3 linked regions of the Homo sapiens genome follow. The protein of the gene in region 1 interacts with the protein of each later gene in a biochemical or structural test. Each region holds a gene or a part of one and is shown in the gene's direction. Other genes may lie near its edges.

The links.
Region 2: the proteins of SACM1L (region 1) and COPA form a complex in vitro, tested with the Homo sapiens proteins (one study listed by BioGRID).
Region 3: the proteins of SACM1L (region 1) and COPB1 form a complex in vitro, tested with the Homo sapiens proteins (one study listed by BioGRID).

The regions. Positions count from the first base shown.
Region 1 is NC_000003.12:45,684,566-45,692,490, forward strand, and holds the start of SACM1L (phosphatidylinositol-3-phosphatase SAC1), read left to right. Parts: upstream 1-4,830; 5' UTR 4,831-4,900; coding exon 4,901-4,932; intron 4,933-5,782; exon of another isoform or gene 5,783-5,822; intron 5,823-7,925.
Region 2 is NC_000001.11:160,305,251-160,312,503, reverse strand, and holds part of COPA (coatomer subunit alpha), read left to right. Parts: intron 1-485; coding exon 486-636; intron 637-2,245; coding exon 2,246-2,312; intron 2,313-3,327; coding exon 3,328-3,403; intron 3,404-5,258; coding exon 5,259-5,341; intron 5,342-6,010; coding exon 6,011-6,150; intron 6,151-6,730; coding exon 6,731-6,816; intron 6,817-6,905; coding exon of another isoform or gene 6,906-6,932; coding exon 6,933-7,071; intron 7,072-7,253. UniProt on the Homo sapiens protein: The coatomer is a cytosolic protein complex that binds to dilysine motifs and reversibly associates with Golgi non-clathrin-coated vesicles, which further mediate biosynthetic protein transport from the ER, via the Golgi up to the trans Golgi network.
Region 3 is NC_000011.10:14,468,801-14,476,053, reverse strand, and holds part of COPB1 (coatomer subunit beta), read left to right. Parts: intron 1-108; coding exon 109-269; intron 270-1,438; coding exon 1,439-1,559; intron 1,560-6,490; coding exon 6,491-6,718; intron 6,719-7,193; coding exon 7,194-7,253. UniProt on the Homo sapiens protein: The coatomer is a cytosolic protein complex that binds to dilysine motifs and reversibly associates with Golgi non-clathrin-coated vesicles, which further mediate biosynthetic protein transport from the ER, via the Golgi up to the trans Golgi network.

The DNA.
Region 1 (7,925 bases):
ATGGATCTCCCCATTCCTGGCGGGAAGCAGACTGATATATAGAGGAGGGGGTTTGAAGAGGTGGTATTTGATTTACATAGAGCCCAAGGGATTGGTTTGACCAGGTGTGCCATTTACATAGCCCTCGAAGAAACTGGCCATTCCACCTTGATCTTTTATTATGCAGATAGGGTTTTTTACTTGGCCAGAGCCTTGACACCTGCACACATGGCAACAAACAGAAGGGAGGCGAAATCTTCCATATTGGATGCACCTGTCTTCCAGGTGCAGCTGCCGGCATTTATCTGTGCAAGCTTCTAGCTTGCTTATTTATGCTTGCAGCTTGACTTTTCAGGCTGCTTTCTGTTGGAAAAGAAATGGTTTTGGGGGCTGCTTTTTATTAAAAGAAAAGCCTTACCAAGGACTCCTGTACCCTATCTGCCTAAATTTTTTTTAACTACTATATTAAAAGGTCTGTAAGTGGGAGCTGGCCCTAAAAGTAGGTTGTAGAGATTATTTGGATGTGCCAACAAGCTTCATCTGCAGCTTGGACTGTCTCCATTGGAAGGCCTCTGGCAGATTTTGTAAAAAGTTATATAACAATTTTACTATAGGAAAAACTTGGCTACAGATATGAATTTATATTACCCATCATTGGCTGGTTCCTTATCCTGAACATTGGTTTCCTTGGAATCTGATTTTGGCTTGTTTGGCCTTTAAAAACCCCAGAAGAATGGGGTTTCTGCCAGATTATTTTCTGGTTTTCAGTCTCACTGAATGTCACAAAGGCCTTGGTTTATGGTTCCCAACTGGTAAAGAAACGTCAAACTTTGCCTCTCTTAGTTCCTTCTACATGACAATGGGTGGCAGTTGCTCATATGGAAGCATTTCTTTTCCCCCTAAAGCCTATGAGACAGGCTGCAACTTAAACCCCTATTTTATTAAAGGAGAGGAAATGTCCAAGAGCCCAGAGATAGTGGGTAAAAGCATCATAAGGACTAGAAATGGGGTCTTCTTGTTGCTAATTAGTAGGGGTGAGGGGTAAGTGGCAGATGTGACTGCCGTCCATGCCCAGACAGGGAATTGTCCTTGAACCTACTCATGCGGTGTCTTCTGGGGTACAGTGAGTCCACAGGGCAGGACGGCCTTGGAGTCAAGAGCCCAGACTCACATTCTATCTCAGGCTTCATAACTCAATTGCTCCATGACCTTAAGCCAATTTAGTTCCCTCATCTGTAAAAATGGGGATAACAACTGAATTTACCTCATGGGATTGTGTAATGCCCAACCTTGTTTTTACTAACCCTGTTTTTAGACTCTCCCTCTTCCTTTAATCACCTAGCCTTGTTTCCACCTGAATTGACTCTCCCTTAGCTAAGACAGCCAGACAGACTCCATCTTGGCTCTTTCACTGGCACCCCTTCCTCAAGGACTTAACTTGTGCAAGCTGACTCCCAGCACATCCAAGAATGCAATTAACTGATAAGATACTGTGGCAAGCTATATCCGCAATTCCCAGGAATTCGTCTGATTGATAACGCCCAAAGCCCCGGGTCTATCACCTTGTAATAGTCTTAAAGCCCCTGCACCTGGAACTGTTTACTTTCCTGTAACCATTTATCCTTTTAACTTTTTGCCTACTTTATTTCTGTAAAATTGTTTTAACTAGACCCCCCCCTCCCCTTTCTAAACCAAAGTATAAAAGAAAATCTAGCCCTTTCCTCAGGGCTGAGAAAATTTTGAGTGTTAGCCGTCTCTCGGTCGCTGGCTAATAAAGGACTCTTAATTCGTCTTAAAGTGTGGCGTTTTTCTAACTCGCTCAGGTACAACAATTGTTGTAAGGAATGATTGAATTCATCCAAGTAAGGGAATTAGAGCAGTTTCTGGCATGAAGTAATTGCTCAATAAAGTGTGTCAGGTTTTAAGATTAATTGATCTTTACATCATGATAAATGGCAACAAAATAAATGACAAATGGATTAAAGTAAATGGTAAAAACAACATAAGAACAAAACATTAAAAAATCATATAATAGAAGAAACCAAATATTAGTAAGTGTGAATATATAAAGTGAAAATTACTACAAGTTCAAATATATATATATATATATATATATATATTTTTTTTTTTTTTTTTTTTTTGAGACAGAGTTTCACTGTGTCACCCAGGCTGGAGTGCAGTGACGTGATCTCAGCCAACTGCAGCCTCCACCTCCCAGGTTCAAGCAATTCTCCTGCCTCAGCCTCCTGAGTGGCTGGGACTACAGGCACACACCACCATGCCTTGCTAATTTTTGTATTTTTAAATAGAGAGAGGGTTTCACCATGTTGGCCAGGCGGGTCTCGAACTCCTGACCTCAAGAGATCCACCTGCCTTGGCCTCCCAAAGCACTGGGATTACAGGCATGAGCCACCGTGCCCAGCCGTTAAAAAAATTTTGAAAAGGTAAATCATAAGCTGGAAAAAAGATTGCAACGTATTTAAGAGTTAATACCCTTAATATATTAAAAAATCAAATTTGTAAGAAAAAATTCAATACATCAAGAGAAAATATATAAAGTACATGTAAAAGGAAGTTCCATATTCCAATTATGAAAATTGCAAATCACGGTTAAATTTATAATAGCCAGTGTTGGTTAGCATGCACGAAAACAGAGAAACAGGTGCTGTTGATGGAAGTGTGTTTTGGTTTAATTTTTTGGAGGGCAGTCAGAAAGTAACAAAAGTCTTAAAAATGTCCATAAAATGGACCTTACAGATGTCCACCTGGTCGTTCCACCTCTAGAAATTTGTAAGACAAATAATTCGGCCGGGCACAGTGGCTCACATCTAACCCCAGCACTTTGGGAGGCTGAGGTGGGCGGATCACGAGATCAGTAGATCAAGACCATCCTTGCTAACACGGTGAAACCCCGTCTCTACTAAAAAATACAAAAAATTAGTCGGGCGTGGTGGCACACACCTGTAGTCCCAGTTACTTGGGAGGCTGAAGCAGGAGAATTGCTTGAACCCGGGAGGCAGAGACTGCAGTAAGCCGAGATCACGCCACTGCACTCCAGCCTGGGTGACAGAGCGAGACTCCGTCTCAAAATAATAATAATTCAACACAGGGTCTCATTCTGTTGCTCAGGCTGGAGTGCAGTGGCATGGTAACAGCTCACTGCAGCCTCAACCTCCTGGGCTGAGGTGATCCTCCCACCTCAGCCTCCTGAGTAGCTAGGACTATAGGTGCACACCACCACACCTGGCTAATTAAAATTTATTTATTTATTTAGTAAATAGAGATGAGGTCTTGCTATGTTGCCCAGGCTGGTCTCGAACTCCTAAGCAGCATCATTTTTTCTAGGTGTTAAACTGACAACCACCCAAATTCCCAGCATAAGGATTCTGCTTAAAATATCTAGCTCTCTGATGAAATATCTTCAAAGAATATTTAATGACCTTAAATCTCAGACAAAAAGGTAAGGAGACAAAATGAGGAACCCATTTCCGTACAACCCCAATTTGGAAAAACACATGTGCAAGTATGCCCATGTTAAAAAATATAGAAGAAAAAAAGGCTTTAAGGAAAAAAAAAATAATAGTAATGATTTAGGGTGGGAATCGCGTTAATATTCCCAATAATTTTATATATTTTAAAAATCTATAATTTTATCAGGGGAAAACGTTATGTTGCGGAAATTAATTGATCGATTGAGTGATTGGTTAACGGACAGTGTCCGATGACTCATATAATCCCCCGGTTCGAGTCCCTTTAGGCCGCAGACGTTTCGCGCCTTCTCGGGTGTCCAAGTCGCGCATCCATACAATGAGGGGTAATATACTAGATTACCTGAGGTCTTCTTACGGTAAAAACACCGGTGTCTTAAGGTTTCCCAGTGGAATTTGGGGGCCGGGTTGACTTCGGAGCTGGAGCTCGCAAAGGCCGGGGCTGCTGCAGATTCTGACGCTTTGTGGACCCCTACTACCGAGCGCAGCCGCACCGCAGGTTTTCTTCGCTGCTGGTTAGATCCAAAGCCCATCCCATCCTAGTAAACTGGGACAGCGCCGCTTCTCACATCACTATGGGGGCTTCTGCTCCGTGGCGGGGAAAGGCCAGAACTGCTGCCTTAAATACGCTTTTGCATCATCCGGTTGCTAACCTCCGGCCACAGCATTCCCCACTCCAAAATGCCACTTTTCCAGGTGTGTTTGCCTAAATTTACCCCATTTACAGACTTCTCAGGTGCATCATTGGGAACAGGGCGCTTTGCAGTTTGCAAACCACCTCAGACAACTCCAGGTTTAAAGGATAAAGGATGACATTGTGAGCAAAGCGGCATCAAAATTTCAGATATTTAACTTTCACATTCTAACCATACACCTTTCCAAGGTCTTGTAATACTTTCACATTGTGAATATACATCTTTACAAGACCCAGTAGTACATGGGTCAAGTGTGGCAAAACAGACATCGCGAGCCAGCCAGGAGTCGAACCTAGAATCTTCTGATCCGTAGTCAGACGCGTTATCCATTGCGCCACTGGCCCCGACTTGCTAAAGCCTTCTCCGTGATAGCTGATCACCCTTATACAGTTTGAACGGGCTTCCGGGTACCAACGATCCATTTTGCCCTTGCGCCGCGCTCCCGCTGCTCTGCCTTTCCCCAAAACGCGCCCCACCAATCCGCAGCGGCTTCGTCACGGCGCTCTTCGTCGCACTCCAACCCGCCGCGTCGGCGGCATCTCTCGCGTGCTCTTGCTTGCGCACTAATTTGTCCTCCACCGCCTCCCGTTCAGGCCGGCTCTCCTGCGGGGCGGGGAAAGGGGTGGGAAGAGGCTGGGAGCTGCGGCCGCTGTGCCAGGGTGACCGGTAGAGTTGTAGCCGAGGTGGCGGCGCGGGGCGGGGCGGGCGGAGAGAGAAGGAAGGAGGTGGTTGTGCAGGATGGCGACGGCGGCCTACGAGCAGCTGAAGCTGTGAGTCCCACGGGCCAGAGGCCTGAGGCGCGGCGGGCGGGGCGGCAGGTGCGGGCCCTGGCCTCGGGGAGGGCTTCTGAGTCCCGGATTGCAGATAGGGTGTGGGAGCTCCTCGCATTTACCGGTTTTCCTCAGCCGGCGCGGCCTCTCCTAGGCCTCGCCCGAGTAGCCATAGGCCGGGAACCAGCGGCTCGCCGGCCTTTCTCCACCGTGCTCGGCCCCAGCGCCCACGGCTGAAGAGAGAAGCTGCCGACTGGCCCCCACCGAGCCGGGGTCGGCGTTATGATGCGGCCCTTCAGGGCACGCTTGTCCCCACTTTCTATGCAGAGCTACCGACTAAATTTATCTGTATGACTTAACAGAGAAAAAGAGTTTTCTCTTACTTAACGGACCTACAGCAGCAATTTAGAGTCTACGCACAAATCAACAAATCTTTGTTTTGCTTACAGCCTATCTGGGTACCGAAGCCTGCCTGCCCCCTCTTCAGTGTGCAGAAAAAATTTAAAGTACAGTCAGTAGTCTTAAGGTCCTGAAGGAGTTTACTTTGGTTTAAATTTTAAACAGCTCCAGCCTAAAGCAGGTTCTTAAGTCAGTGTCGACAGCCAGAGGCTAATCTCGGTAATTTTGGTACTGCAAATTGACTTTTCGGTAAATCCAAGTTCTTGAGTCTTTGATACAGAGGCTGTGGTTGTTAAGAGTTATAAAATAGGTGTTTTTAAGGGTTTTGGTTTGTCTTGGATTAAAAACAACATGTGTTTATTTCCCTTAGTGTTACCCATTAGCATCCACACTTTTCTTGTCTGTGAATAATTTTGTTGTACTCACTTCGTGTTTAATGCTTTACCCCTAGGCTGTTTGAAAATCTGGTGGCCACAGCCTGGGAATATCTGGTAGGAGAAACAAATGTAATTTTTTAGAAGCTTATCTATCCCTGTATATGAGCTAAAATACCTTGGCAGTTAGGCATAGATACCGCATTTCTTTTGCAGGGAAATGACACCAAAATGTGGTTTGGGCACTTAAGCTCCTCAGACCTCAACCTCACTAGTAACTTTCTGAAAGGTTCAGTGGAAAGTTAGAGGTGCAAAATTCAGAGAGGTCATCTATTCCACATTGTATGTGTTGCAAAAAAGATGATTGCTTTTTCTACAGTGCACCCCCTGTGGGTGCCATTTCTGTTTACTGTAATGTTCTTTGAAAACCCTAGCTGCACACTTCCCTCCACATTTTCCTCTCCACCTTTCCCTATTTTCTCCCAGTTCCCCTTTGCAAAGTGCTCACCTCGTCTTTGGTGAAAGAGTTGAAGGAAGTGTCTTCCACTGCGTTTCTGGCCAGGCCACTGTCACATGTGCTCTGCTAGCTAATTAGGTTATTGTGTATCTGATAGGCACTGAAGGGTTTAATGTGATCCTACACCAGGTCTCAAATGTGTTTAAGCCATATGGAGCCATGGCTTCATGCAGCTTAGCGTGGCAAAGATTGAATAGGATGGAGAACTTGAGAATTATGATGATTGTTTTTCAGCTGCCAGAACACTAAATTTAACCAGTTCAGACCTTAAAACAAACCCAAATCCTCGCATACATAAAAGAGAAAGGAAATTTGTCCCTGAAGTAGTAAGAATGATGTTTTTGTATTGATTTTTGTGAGAAGTGGAAACTCTTAAATTATTTGGGTGATAAAGTCAAACTGGGGTTATGTGAAAGTCATTCTCTCATTTGTCAGTCCTAGCTTTTTTTCCCCCTGAAAAAAAAGTTTAGAGTGTTTCTGTAAATGTGAAGGTACAACTTTTTTGCACCTTTTTCTTTACCAAGGGGTTTATGAGTTAGAGTTTCCATTTTTATTCCTTCCTTTTGGCCCTTCCTGCTCTGAGGCTGCTGTTGAAGGTTTTCAAATGTGGCTCCTGCCCTAAGGAGTATTCTTTTTTGGATGCATTTAGAAGTGAAATTGGTTTCTGTGTAAGAATTGGTAGGAGATAGTAGCCATTTTTTAAAATGTGTCTGGAGATGTGTTTTAAGAAATATCCATGCAAAAGAGATAGTTCGATTATTTTATTACAAAAGGATTGCTAAAAGGATTTATTTAAATGTTGAAATGCTTGTTTTTTTTTTCTTTTGTTTCGTTTTGTCTTTAAAGAGATGGGGTCTCATTCTGTTGCCCAGGCTGGAGTACAGTGGTTTGATCATAGCTCACTGCAGCCTCTAACTCCTAGTCTCAAGCGAGCCTCCCACCTCAGCCTCTCGAGGAGCTAGGACTACAGATGCACACCACCACACCTGTCCTACTTCGGATTTTAAATAATAATTCTGTCTGCATTATGCCATGCTTTTTCTCCAGCCCATCTCTGCCTTGTTGAATTTCACCTTTCTAATGCTCTGGTTTTATCCTCTACTTTCCTGCTTACAATTTCCAGTTCCATCTTACTGACCTATAGGATCAAACTTGCATTTCTTAGCCATCTGTATATTCTAGCCTTTTTATAATCTGTCGCCTAATTTATTTCCCGTAACTGCCCAGAGCCTTTTCCCCACTTCTGCAAAACTTGGCTCATCCCCTTCTAGCTTCAAACTTGGGTGTTATTTTGATCCTTCTACCCAGAATGCCTTCTTCCTCTCTGTTCTCTTTACATACTGGTCACATCCATGGTAGAGCCAAGAGATCTCAGGTTTTGTTAGTCAGAATGGATATGGATTCATATCTTAACTTGACTACTTGTTTTGTGTCCTGGGCATAGTACTTAATCCTTCTGAATTGGTGTTTCAGTCTGTAAAATGGGAATGTTGATACTTCACAGGATTATTGTAAGGTTTGAAAGAGAGTTTTTTTTTTTTTTTATTATTTTTGTGAGACAGGGTCTCACTTGTCACCCAGGCTGGAGTGCAGTGGTGTGAGCTCAGCTCACTGCAGCCTCAGCCTCCCAGGCTCAAGTGATCCTCTCACCTCAGCCCCCAAAGCATCTGGGACTACAGGTGCACATCACCATGTCTGGCTGA
Region 2 (7,253 bases), on another chromosome or scaffold:
GGGATGATGGTGCTAGTAGGGAAAGAGCAAAACATTTTAAAAAACAGAATCACAAAGGGTTTTTAACATCCATTTTTTCAGTAAATACTTCTTATACTCTTTTTATATGCTAGAGACTGGGGAAGGATGGAAATTATAATTTCTGCCTTCAGGGAATTCATGTTACAATGTGGGTGATAGACCTAAATGATTACAGTGCAGGATGATAAGTACTGTAATGGAGGTTTGTACAAAGCATTAGGGGAACACAGAAAAGGGCAGTGTGGATAGTGACACTAAGTGTGGCAGTGTGAATAGTATTAGGAAAGGATTCACAGAGAATTATTTAAATAAAGATTCCAAGAATTGTGAGAATTTAGGCAAATAAGGGATGCATTCAGGTGTCTTGTCTTACAGATATAATCTTCATCCTTACGTATCTCCAATTTCCAGGTTTTTTTCTTGCCTACAGCTTAATTTTTTCTCCTCCTCTCCCTGTCCCCCAGGCCATGATGGTGGTATGATTGTGTTTAAGCTGGAACGGGAACGGCCAGCCTATGCTGTTCATGGCAATATGCTACACTATGTCAAGGACCGATTCTTACGACAGCTGGATTTCAACAGCTCCAAAGATGTAGCTGTGATGCAGTTGCGGAGGTAAATCGGACTTGTTTCTTTCCTCCAAACCCTCTCATCTGTCACCCTGATACAACTCCCACAAACAAGACTCTTCTTTTCTTTCTTTCATTTATTTATTTTATTTATTTAATTTTTTTTTGAGACGGAGTCTCGCTTTGTCGCCCAGGCTGGAGTGCAGTGGCGCGATCTCGGCTCACTGCAAGCTCCGCCTCCCGGGTTCACACCATTCTCCTGCCTCAGCCTCCCAAGTACTGGGACTACAGGCGCCCGCCACCACGCCTGGCTAATTTTTTGTATTTTTTAGTAGAGACGGTTTCACCATGTTAGCCAGGATGGTCTCAATCTCCTGACCTCATGATCTGCCTGGCTTGGCCTCCCAAAGTGCTGGGATTACAGGCGTGAGCCACCGCGCCCAGCCTATTTATTTATTTTTAAATTTTTTTTTTTTGAGATGGAGTCTCACTCTGTCACCCAGGCTGGAGCGCAGTGATGCAACCTCAGCTCACTGCAACCTCCACCTCCTGGGTTCAAGCAATTCTCCTGCCTCAGTCTCCCAAGTAGCTGGGATTACAGGTGTGCACCACCACACCTGGCTAATTTTGTATTTTGAGTAGAGACGGGGTTTCGCTGTGTTGGTCAGGCTGGCCTCGAACTCCTGACCTTGTGATCCGCCCACCTCGGCCTCCCAAAGTTCTGGGATTGCAGGCGTGAGCCACCGCACCCAACCAAGACTCTTCTTTTAAATGACATTTTGGATCTCGTATTCTGTCACAGATGGAATCCCCATTAGATGAGCCCGCTCAGTTTAAACCCAATGAGTGAGGGAGGCAAGGAAGTGGTCATGAGTAGAATGATAGTTCCCTTCTTGAGAATGCTAGTGACCTTGTGGATGGAAAATCATTCTGCCACAATTTGCTGGGTCTCTTGCAAGCCAGAGGAAGTTTCTTGATAGAGAATGGCCCAAACTGGTAACAGAACTTTTCGCCTTTGTTTGGCATTTCTTTTCTTTAACTCTCCCTTGCCTTCCAGCAAAAAGTGCACAACTCTGAACCAGAATATATGTCCCTGGAAACTCTTAATTCTGAAGATACAATAACCTCTGGGATGCCTGGCAAAAGGACCTGTCCTTTTGAAAAGCCAGCTGCATCAGCATGCTGAAACATTCATGGTGGCAAAATTTGGAATGAGGTTTTGATAACCACCCTTTAGCATCATTACAATAAAAAAATGGGTTTATGTGAATACTCCAAGGGACAGGAGAAACCAGCCAGAGACAAATCACATTATGTTACTCTGTGGTGTCCACTGCAATTACGTGTAGGAATTTGTATCCAAGCAGAACCAGTCCCACTCACTACAGTGAGTGTTAACCCTACCTACCTTCTGTTGAATAATTTGACTTCTACTATGGCTTACTTTTTAAAACTGTTTGTTCAAAGCTGAGCTAGGGAAGTTGCCAAGCCTTAAAGGAAGAGAATACAATATTTATTCATTTTATTCCTGATTATAAAAGTGATGAGTATATAGTGTAAAGATTGGATAAGTAGGAGGTGTGGGGGTGATTCCTTTCTTCCTTCTATTCTTATGCCTCTTCCCTGTTTTCTCCTTTTTCTATATATATCTCTAGTGGTTCCAAGTTTCCAGTATTCAATATGTCATACAATCCAGCAGAAAATGCAGTCCTGCTTTGTACAGTAAGTAACCTGTGGAGCCCTCCTAGGTTCTCCTCATTTTCCATAGGTCTCTTTCTTATGCCCTTAGGGAATCTTTAATGGCTTCTTAGAAACTATTTAATGGTCATTTTGTGAGAGCTGACACAGTGATCACTCAGAGACTCAAATCAGGTAGGTTTCAGTTGTCGTAAACATATTGAGCATTTGTGAACTGCCTATCTTTCCTAAAGCTGAACTTAATGGAGCATCAGAATGAATGACCCAGATCACTAGAAATAATTTGAGAGAATGTTTAGACTATATATATATATTTCCTATGGAAAGAAAATGTTTACCTTGATCCCTTCCTTTGGGTGAAAATAGAAGAACTATTATTTTGAGAGGAAGTTCATATCAGTGGGGTTGGCTTCAGAGTCATCAATGACTCCTCTCTGTTTCTTGCAACAGAATTTGCAAAAAAAAAAAAAAAAGAAATGACATTCTAATTTTAGTGCCCTCGTGGCCAAGTTAAAAGGAATGAAGTTAAATGTCTTTCCTCATATAACTATATTGTCTAATCTGTTCTTCTTTAATATCTAGTAGTCCCATACTCTGAGTTTTCTTGAGTGTTTTTTCTTTTCTTCTTTTTCCAATAAACATTTGCATTCCTATAGTGTCTTTTCTTTGATGTCTTTTTTTTTTCCTTTCCAGAGGTTGAGTACTCAGTTGATGAGTCCTCAGGGTGGGGTACCAGAATATCAGGGTCCTAGTCTGTTAATTTGTGGAGTAGAGAGCATTTCTTACTTTCATTCAGATAATATCTGCATCTTTGGAGGATAAAGAAAATAAAGTGACATCAGTGCTGATGTGTTTGGCAAAGAGCCCTATAACTCATAGATGTAGAAACAGTCAAATGCCCTCTGGGTGAAGGGTAAGAAAAGTATGGTTTCAGATTGGTGTCTGTGCAATGGAACTGTTTTCTCTGTCAGAGTAAATTGGAAAACTGGTATCTTGGGTGCTTCTCACTAACATTTTAATTTCCCCTTTTCTTCTACAGAGAGCTAGCAATCTAGAGAATAGTACCTATGACCTGTACACCATCCCTAAAGATGCTGACTCCCAGAATCCTGATGGTAAGTGTTCTTTTTGTCTACCCCACTCTGCTTCCAGCTCTCCTCACCCGCATCATAACTCCTCTTCAAGTTTTTCACATTCCATCCCCAAGCCATGGCCACATCACTCATGTCTGTTGGCAGGTGCTGCTGACAATTGCATCAGAGGCGACCATGGTGTGAAATATTCATGTTCCTCCTCCATTTTATTACCCCAGCTAGATATATATATTTTATAATTTGGTTATTAGAAACTCTCCATTCTCTCTTTCAGCACAGCATGTTATCCTAGTTTATTGTCAGTTGATATGACTTTCACCCTGGTAGTTTCATTTATTTAAAAATGTGGTTCCAATCTTATAATGCCTCATCCTGGGACTAGGGATTTATACTGTCCTATCCACATCCAGATCCGATTTGCTTCCTTTTGCATGTCAAAAAGATGAGGCTGCTAACAGCCCCACACCCCACCTGGGATCCCAGGATCCAGCTGAGACTCCTGCCTACCTCTTCCATTACCACTATCCCTTGTTGATGTCCTTGTGATTAGAACTTGCTGACAAAACATTCTCAGAATGGATTTGACTATTGCCTATGGTCTTTTGGGTGCACTTCTTCCAGCGGGTTTATGGCTAGTACCAGGTCAGAGATTTATTCTGCAGATCCCCACTCTTACTGGCATATTTTAATGATATTTTAGACCCCATCAACAGATTCCTAAGAAATAATTTGCTAGCTCTGTTTCTTTTGTGGGTGCCCCTGGGTTATTATTGTTGCTAATCGATCTCCTCTCTTTTAAATGTGTTCATAGTGAGAGAAAGAAAAGATATTTGTATTTGGTATCCATAAGTCAAAGTCTCCCTTATAAATTAGTCAGTTAAGCCATTTCTGACTAAATCTTATGGTTTGGTACCTCCCAACTAGCTCTTTGCTTTTTTTTTTCCCCATCTGTGTTTACAATTAATAGAATTTAAAATATTTTGTTTTGTTTTATTACCACTTTTATTTTCTGTACTTCATTTTTTGAGGGAGATAATAATAAAGGAGCAGCCCAGTGGTGGGCAACAGAGATGGGCTTGAATAATGCAGATTCCTGGCCCCTGGAAAACGGGAGTGTTGGTTTTGATAATAATTAGTTTCATAAATTGCCTGCCACTCCAGATGCCAGGGGCAAGACTGGCCAGCATGTTCTCTCCAGTTTTCTGCTGGTCTAATAGGTAAAAGAGTATTTTGATGCACCCTTCTGTTTATCCTTCTACAAGTTTCCCAGAGAATGGAGTGTCCATTTCAAAATTCTAATAAGCCACTGAACTGAGGAACATTTTGTAACTCTCTTCAGGGTGATAAGAATGGTCAGTTGACATTTACAGAGCAACAACTTGGTTCTAAATACCGCCCAGCACCAAGCTCTCCTGTCAAGATTTAGTTGGGAGTGCTCTGCCTCACCCTGCCCTACTAGGAAGTCTGCATTTGCATGTTAAAAGCAGCAGAGAGCAGCTGCATCCTGTGGAGGGGGTCCTATGACACAGGCTTGCTTTGCCGCAGCTTGGCCAGGGAGGCCCTGCTCGTTAGCTTGATGGAGTGTGCTGTCTCCCAAGATGGGCGGCCCTTCTGCCAGTACATGATGTTGGCTGAAATGCAACCACTTGGCCTAGAGAAAAGAGCCTTGGCAGGGGTGGTGGTTGGTGTTTGGAGGGGACTGGTGGGGAAAAGTCACTCAATAATAGCCCCAGGTTATGGCTGAATTAGTTAGGAAGCAGCTCAACTGGCAAAGCCAAGATGGCATCCAGCAAGACTGGCAGCTCCATGGCACCCGACTATGTCACCTGCCAGTGACTCACCACATGCTCCCACCCTTTGGTTTTGTTCTTCTCAGCGCCTGAAGGGAAACGATCCTCAGGCCTGACAGCCGTTTGGGTCGCTCGAAATCGGTTTGCTGTCCTAGATCGGATGCATTCGGTGAGTTAAGACTAAAAGCAGAAACTAATTTGGGGAGTGTGGTGGCAGTGGCCTGTGTATTGCAAAATAAAGACCATTGTTTTTTCTGTTCTCCCCCGGGCAGCCGTGATTCTCATGTATTGGCTGTACCTCTGTCTCTAGCCCTACACTAAGCCCTCTTGGGGGAATGGCATTAAAACTGATTTGATTGGGTTGATGATCGCCGTGGCTCTGGGTTTAAGAACCAAGCTAAAGTCACTCTTGACTACAGGAGCCCAAAACGCATCAAATCTGAAGTGAGTGGGCTGGATGAGGAAATTTCCCTCCTTCTGCTGCCTCCATTGTTACTTGAAATGTAATAGGTCCAGCACAAGATAAAGCACTCTGAAGAAAATATTTAACAAAATTTAAGCCCCAGAAACAGTGTTTTCTCTCTCTCATTCATTGAGAAATTCAGACTTTAGTTGGGACTTCTCAGGATGTTTTAGTTGGAGGAGAAAAAATAATGTATTAAGGCCCTTAGAGAAGATCTTGGTTGGCATGGTCTGTCTGCAGTGGTAATTGACATGGACAGGACAAAAAATACTTAGTTAATTGAAGCTAAGGAACAATTGCTGAGGAACATCATCAGTTGTCATCATCATCTATACACATTTCTTCTCTTAACCCCATCTTTAATACTTATTGCAGCTTCTGATCAAGAATCTGAAGAATGAGATCACCAAAAAGGTACAGGTGCCCAACTGTGATGAGATCTTCTATGCTGGCACAGGCAATCTCCTGCTTCGAGATGCGGACTCTATCACACTCTTTGACGTACAGCAGAAGCGGTAACATATCAGGTGCCCCTAAGCAGACAGCCCTGTAGTTGGGGAGAGTGGACATCTTTAGTGGGAACCTTTTTTCCCCAAGTGAGTTTGTCTTGTGGCTTGGCCACTTCTTGTGCTCCAAGACTCTTTATAGTAACTTTTCCCTTCTGTGATCACTCTCCATTCTTCACGTCCACACTAGCATTACAGTGAGATTCTTGGTTATTTATCTGTTTTTACAGTACTTACCTGAACAAAGCGTGTTCTCCGAGCTTAGAATGAGAGAGAGACAGAGATTAATAACATAGTTCCTACATTTAAGGGAGCTTGCAGTCCAGTGGTGAAAACAGACATACACAGATTCCCTAATAATACAAGGAAATGAGGGAGAGGGGGTTGAGGAAGGGGTAAGTGCACAATGTGAGCCAAAATGTTTAAGTCACTGAGCTACTATGTAGGAATTACATTAAGTATTTTATGTAATTAGAATTACATTAAGAAATTGGGGTTTACATTAATTAGAGGGTGCAATTGATGTAGATCAAAGCCTGAGACAAGGGAAATAGATCCATTCATGTTTGCACATCTCTATCTATCTCAGGACTCTGGCATCTGTGAAGATTTCTAAAGTGAAATACGTTATCTGGTCAGCAGACATGTCACATGTAGCACTACTAGCCAAACACGGTGAGTCTTCATTATATCCACCCTGATTTAGAGACCATTCCCTTCCACCCCGATCCCTGCCAGTCTACGGCACTTACCCTATCCAACAGAACACTCATGCCCTTTGCCTCTTACAGCCATTGTGATCTGTAACCGCAAACTGGATGCTTTATGTAACATTCATGAGAACATTCGTGTCAAGAGTGGGGCCTGGGATGAGAGTGGGGTATTTATCTATACCACAAGCAACCACATCAAATATGCTGTCACCACTGGGTAAGTTAATTATCTGGGATACAGAATGGGAGAAGACAGCTTCCTGAAATCACTGTCTTGTCTTGAGATGTAACTGAAGTCCTCCATGAATTTTCTTCATGGAAAAGCCTTACCTGGCATATATGTGCAAGGGGCATCAGAACATTCTTTTTTCAACTTTTTTAAAATTGAGAAATCTAAAA
Region 3 (7,253 bases), on another chromosome or scaffold:
AAATCCCATTAGGGTAATGCCTTTTTTAGAGAAACAATCAAATATTTAAAGATAATTTTGCTTGCTGTTGATACTATTACTAAAATGATGTTTCCAATTGACTTTTAGATCCCAATTGTAGAGTCAGAAATAAAGAAAGAAGCTGGTGAATTAAAACCTGAAGAAGAAATAACTGTAGGGCCAGTTCAGAAATTGGTTACTGAAATGGGTACCTATGCAACTCAGAGTGCCCTTAGCAGTTCTAGACCCACCAAGAAAGAGGAAGACAGGTAATTTATGGCACATATACCCTGCCAGCTGTACTACTTTTATTATTACTCTTGTATGTAAGACAGTCAAATGATTTCTTTCCTCTTGCTTTTGCAACCAAAATGAAAATCTTTGCCATTTAAGGTACTTGAGAAGCGGAGGATGTTTAAGTTCTTCCCCCTAGGAATTGTATTGATGGTTTTAATTCTCTGTCCCTTCCAGTGTTTTTATGGAAATAACTGTTCTGTTTAAACTCAAATTATTTTTACTCAGAAAATGCTAAGTGGGGGTAACTGAAGATATTTGAGTTTTGTTGTTTATTAGCATCTGAAAACATTTTGAAGATTTTTCAATTTCTAAATGATGGAATAAAATTGTGCATTTTTCTATTAAGTAAATTTTAATGGTGAAGATGGTGAAATCTTTGCCTAAAATTTTACTGAATACCCACTAAGTGCTAGGCATTGTGCTAAGTAGTTTGTCTCATATAGTCTTGACAATAAGCCTTTGAGATAGAATATATTATCTCCATTTTATGGAAGAAGAATTTGAGGCTTACCCAGTAAATAAACAGGTAAGCTGGAATTCGGAGGTACTTCATTAGCTGCAATTACGTATGCCCCTAATTAAATATTGTATCTTTCCATATTCTGATGGCTTTTGTGTCATTCAAAGATAAGTTTTCTTTTTTTTTTTTTTTTTTTTTTTTTTGACACAGAGTCTTGCTCTGTCGGCCACGCTAGAGTGCAGTGGCGCGATCATGGCTCACTGCAACCTGTCTCCTGGGCTCAAGCAGTTCTCCTGCCTCAATCTCCTGAGTAGCTGGGATTACAGGTTTGTGCCACCATGCCCAGCTAATTTTTGTATTTTTAGTAGAGACGGGGTTTCACCATGTTGGCCAGGCTGTCCTCGAACTCCTGACCTCAGGTAATCCGCCCGCCTTGGCCTCCCAAAGTGCTGGGATTACAGGTGTGAGCCACTGCACCTGGCCAAAGATAAGTTTTAAAGTCATGTATTATTTTTCTTTTTCCTTCTTTCTTCTGGGAGCTAAGGAGTTAGTTAGCTAAGGTATCCTTATCACTGAAGGATGGTAATAAGAGTGTTTAATAGGCCTATATCATTCATTTATACAGAAGCTGCATGCTGCTTAGCAAGTTGGTGGGTTTGATTTTCCTTGGTTGCTTTGCAGACCTCCCTTGAGAGGATTCCTTCTGGATGGAGATTTCTTTGTTGCTGCCTCCCTTGCCACAACTCTGACCAAGATTGCATTGCGCTATGTAGCTTTGGTTCAGGAGAAGAAAAAGCAAAATGTAAGTTCATTTATTTTACATTTAACCAACAATTAAACATTGAGTGCCTACTATATGCATTGAACAGTGAGGGACTCAAAAATTAATGCTAAGTTTCTGTCATGAAAGAGTTTATGATTTAATAGCAGAAGTGGACACAGTAATATATTACTCTAAAATTGATAAAGTATCTTCCTCTTCTGTTTGGGCTTTAAAAAAATGAAAATTGACAAAGTAATACAATAACAATGTCATGTGATTATTCCAGTGGAAGAGAAAGGATTTATGAAGTCACCTCAGTTTGCTGGGATTAGTTCAGGACCAGTGAAGGAAATGTCCTTCTCTCCAGCATCTGCATCCATTCGGTCATTGTCTGTTTTATCCCAGAATGTCTCTTAAGTTATTCTCATCTGTAGTTCATGCCTGCTTTGTAGCTTCTGACCGTTCTAACCAAACACCCATTTACAATGGTATGCAGTTGGTCCTCCATATTCACAGCTTCTGCACCTGCAGATTCAACCAACTATGGATTGAAAATATCTTTTTTAAAAAATGATAAACAGTAAAAAATAATAGAAAGTTGAAAACAATGCAGTGTAACAATTATTTACATAGCATTTACAGGCATACTTCATTTTATTGTACTTTGCACATATTGCTTTTTTTTTTTTTTTTAAACAAATGAAGGTTTGTGGGAACCCTGAGTTGAGCAAGTCTGTTAGCATCATTTTTCCAAATAAGCATATGCTCACTTCATATCTCTGTGTTACATTTTGGTAATTCTCACAATATTTCAAACTTTTTCATTATTATTACATCTGTTATGGTGATCTGTTATCAGTGATCTTTAATGTTACTATCATAGTTGTTTTGGGATGCCAGGAACCATTCCCATATAAAATAGTAAACGTAATCAATAATTGTTGTGTGTGTTCCGGCTGTTACCCCGTCTCTTTCCTCCTTGGGCCTCCCTATTCTATTCCCTGAGATACCACAATATTGAAATTAGGCCGGTTAATAATCCTACAGTGGCTTCTAAGTGAAGGGAAGAGTCACATGTCTTTCACTTTAAATCAAAAGTGAGAAATAATTAAACTTAGTAAGGAATGCATGTCAAAAGCTGAGCTAAGCCAAAAGCTAGGCTGCTTTTGCCAAGTAGGTAGCCAAGTTATGCATGCAAAGGAAATGCTCTTAAAGGAAATTAAAAGTGCTACTCCAGTAAACACATGAATGATAAGAAAGTGAAACATTTGGCAGGCGTGGTGACTCACACCAGCACTTTGGGAGGCCCGAGACAGGCGGATCACGAGGTCAGGAGTTCGAGACCAGCCTGGCCAACATGGTGAAACCCTGTCTCTACTAAAAATACAAAAATTAGCCAGGTGTGGTGGCAGGCGCCTGTACTCCCAGCTACTTGGGAGGCTGAGGCAGGAGAATTGTTTGAACATGGGAGGCAGAGGTTGCAGTGAGCTGACATCACACCACTGCACTCCAGCCTGGGAGACAGAACAAGACTCCGTCTCGAGGAAAAAAAAGAAGAAGAAAGAAAGCGAAATAGCTTTATTGCTGATAGAAAGTTTGAGTGGTCTGGATAGAAGATAAAACCAGCCACAAGATTCCCTTAAGCCAAAAGCCTAATCCAGACTAAGACCTTAACTCTCTTCAATTCCATGAAGGCTGAGAGAGGTTAGGAAGCTTCAGAAGAAGAGTTTGAAGCTAGCAGAGGTTGATTCATGAGGTTTAAGGAAATAAGCCCGTCTTCATAATGTAAAAGTTTGACATGAAGTAGCAAGTCCTAATGGAGAAGCTGTGGCAAGTTATCTGGAAGATCTAGCCAAGATCATTGGTGAAGGTGACCACACTAAACAACAGATTTTCAGTGTAGACTAAACAACCTTATATTGGAAGAAGATGCCATCTAGGACTTTGGTAGCTAGAGAGAAGTCGGTGCCTGGCTTCAAAGCTTCAAAGGATAGGCTGACTCTTTTGGTAAGGGCTAATACAACCAGTAACTTAAGTTGAAGCCATTGCTCATTTCCCATTTTGAAAATCCTAGGGCTCTTAAGAATTGTGCTTAATCAACTCTGTCTGTGCTCTGTCAGTGGAACAACAAAGCCTGGATGTCAGCACATCCTCTTTACGGGATGGCTTACTAAGTATTTTAAGCTCACCATTGAGACCTACTGCTCAGAAATAAAAGACTCCTTTTAAAATATTACTGTTCATTGACAATTTAGCTGGTCACCCAAGAGCTCTGATGGAGATGTAGAAAGAAATGAATGTTTTCATGCCTGCTAAGACAACATCCATTATGCTGCCACTGATCAAGTAGTTTCAACTCTTATTATTTAAGAAACAGAATCCATAGAACATTTGTGGTAGTAGCGCAGAGTTGGTTACAATGTCCTACCACAGCAATTTCTGACATTCAAATTGGGCCTGTAGCAATGGGACTCCTTTTGATTCCTTCAGCTTTCGTATTATGTTGGTTATCTATACAGCAGGTTTCTAAATTGAAACACTTTCACTCACATCACTCATATTTCCTTCGTTTTTGGAGACTAACAGCTTGATCTAAAAAAAAATTTTTTTTTAGACGGAGTCTCACTCTTCTTGCCCAGGCCGGAGTGCCATGGCATGATCTCAGCTCACTGCAACCTCCGCCTCCTGGGTTTAAGCAATTCTCCTGGCTCAGCCTCCCGAGTAGCTGGGGCTACAGGCGCCTGCCACCACGCCTGTCTAATTTTTTTTGTATTTTTAGTAGAGACTGGGGTTTCACCATGTTGACCAGGCTGGTCTCGAACTGCTGACCTCAGGTGATCCGCCCACCTCGGCCTCCCAAAGTGCTGGGATTACAGGCATGAGCCACCGTGCCTGGCCAGGTTCTTTTTGTTTTTGTTTTAATTCCATTATAAGAAAAGCCATAAATGAGAGCCAGATAATTTACAAGGTATATTATCCCTTAATTGATTTGATTTTTGAGCAATAATTTATTTTGTAACTCTTTTGTGGGCATTTATTTATTCAGGTCTGGTCACAGTATAATCTTTAAAGTATGTTTTTTAAAAGTCTCCAACATTTTTTTATCTCAGAGTTGAATTTGCTTTCCTCTCCTGGTTGCATCACTTCTGGAAGTTGGGAGTGTTTACTGATACCTGCTTAAAAGAGCCAGTTTCTTGTAACATACCGAGTTAATAATGTTTGCACTGTTTGGTACAAGAAGGAAGTTTGGTTGCTTATAATCTCACTGGCACTCCTTCATTTATGCCATTTCCAACACTCTTCATTTCTTTGTGTAGGACTAAGTTTCTGGTATCATACATCTTTTGCCTAAAGAATTTGCTTTAACTTTTCTTATAGTGCAGATTTGTTGGCAACAGATTGTTCCAGTTTTTGTCTGGAAAAAGCCTATTTTTTTGTACACTTTAGAAAGTTACCTTTGTGGGTATAGGATTCTAAGTCTTCTGTTTTTTTTTCCCAGTAGTGTAAAAGTAAAGCTCCATTGTCTTCTGGCTTTTTGGTGAGAAGTCTACTGTCATTCTTATCTCCCTGGGTGTAGAGAGAGAGAGAGTGTGTGTGTGTGTGTGTGTGTGTGTGTGTGTGTGTGTGTGTGTGTATTTCTTCCACTGGTTTTAGATTTTCTCCTTTTCACTTGGTTTCAGTAATTTGATTAGGATATGCCTTAGTGTGGTTTTCTTCATGTTTGCTGTACTTGTGGTTCATTGAGCTTGTTGGGTTTGCAGGTTTATATCTCCATCAGTTTGGGAAATTTTCAGTCATTTCCTCGGATTTTTTTTTCTGTCCCCTCCTCTCTTTCCTCTCCTTTTGGAGACAGTATCCAAACTTGGGGGACATATACTTACTCTTCTGCTGGTTTTTCCCAGGCCTCCAGTAGTTTTTCATGCATGTGTGCAGATCAGTACTCAGCCAAAGGCAATTTGGCAAGGGCTTAGAGCATATGTGTCAGGATAATGCTACATGAGACTAAAAAAGTAAGTTGCAATCACTTGTGGAAGACTTTGAATAGCGAGCTAAGTAATACGGACTTCAGTATGAAGGCTGACATTCATTAAAGGTATTTACATAGGGAATGAAATGATTGGTGCAGTATAAAGATTAAGATAGCAGCATCAGGTGATCACGCTTAGCAGCACAATAATTGGACAGCCTAACTTTAGGTACCTTGTGATGCAGTACAGGGTGAAATACAAAACATCACCTATCTGGTATTCTAATCAAAAGTGTGGGATATTCTATAAAACAACTGGCCTCAGTTCTTTAAAAAAGTTAGTGCGATTAAAAACAAAACGGCAGAGAACTGGTCTAGATTAAGAGGGATAAAATGCATGAAGCTGATCCTGGATTTAAAAAATAAAACAAAAACATTTTAAGACAATTTAGGGAGATTTATTTGAATTCAGAGTATAGAAGCTGTATTTTGGAATTGTTGAATTTTTCAGATGAGAAAATGAAATTGTGGTTTGTAGGAAACTGTTCTGACTCTTAGGAGATGAATGCTGAAGCATTTATGAGGTGAAGACTTTTTCACATGTCAGCCAAAAAAAATAAGTGTACATATACAGAATAGGTAAGCAAATGTGGCAAAATGTTAACAATTGGTAAAGTATATCATTCTTTTAACTTTTCTGTAGTTGGGATTAAAAAGGACAGCATCAGCATATGAAGTGGTTACAGAGAAGGACTGGAGCAAGGGAAAACAGTTAAAAAGCCTCTGCTGTCTCTAATTGAGGATTAATGCAGGTCTTAGAGAGTGGCAGTTAAGAGTAGAAAGGAAGGAGAAGAATGCAAAAACAGATATGGACATAAAATCCAAAGAATTTGAAATCTTATTCAGGTGAAGTGAAAATTTAGATTGTGAGTTATAATGAAGTGACATGATTGCAATCTGAGAATCAAGACAATATCAGTAACCGATTTCTTTACTTTCTTAGTCTTTTGTTGCTGAGGCTATGTTGCTCATGGCTACTATCCTGCATTTGGGAAAATCCTCTCTTCCTAAGAAGCCAATTACTGATGATGATGTGGATCGAATTTCCCTGTGCCTCAAGGTCTTGTCTGAATGTTCACCTTTAATGAATGACATTTTCAATAAGGAATGCAGACAGTCCCTTTCTCACATGTTATCTGCTAAACTAGAAGAAGAGAAATTATCCCAAAAGGTAAGGTATATATGATGAGGCAACAAAAGTGTTTTGTGTCTCTTCGTGCAGTGGCTCACGCCTGTAATCCCAGCACTTTGGGAGGCTGAGGCAGGAGGACTCCTTGGGGCCAGGTGTTTGAGACCAGTGTGGGCTACATAGCAAGCCCCTGTCTCAACAAAAAAAATGAGAAAATTAGCCAGGCATGGTGGTATGTGCCTGTCATTCCAGCTACTTGGAAGGCTGAGGATGAAGGATCGTTTGAATCTAAGAGTTCGAGGCTGCAGTGAGCTGTGATCATACCACTGCACTCCGCCTGGGCAACAGAGTAACAGCCTGTCTCAGGAAGAAAAAAAAGAAAAGAAAAGTGCTTTGTGGGTTTTCTTGTTGTTTTGTTGATTTTTCAGTTTTCATATGTGAGGGCTGTCTCTGTCAAAAGCCTCTAAAAAACTATCTTTTCATATTAAAGAGAGACTTTGTTATATTCTCAACACAGAAAGAATCTGAAAAGAGGAATGTGACAGTACAGCCTGATGACCCCATTTCCTTCATGCAA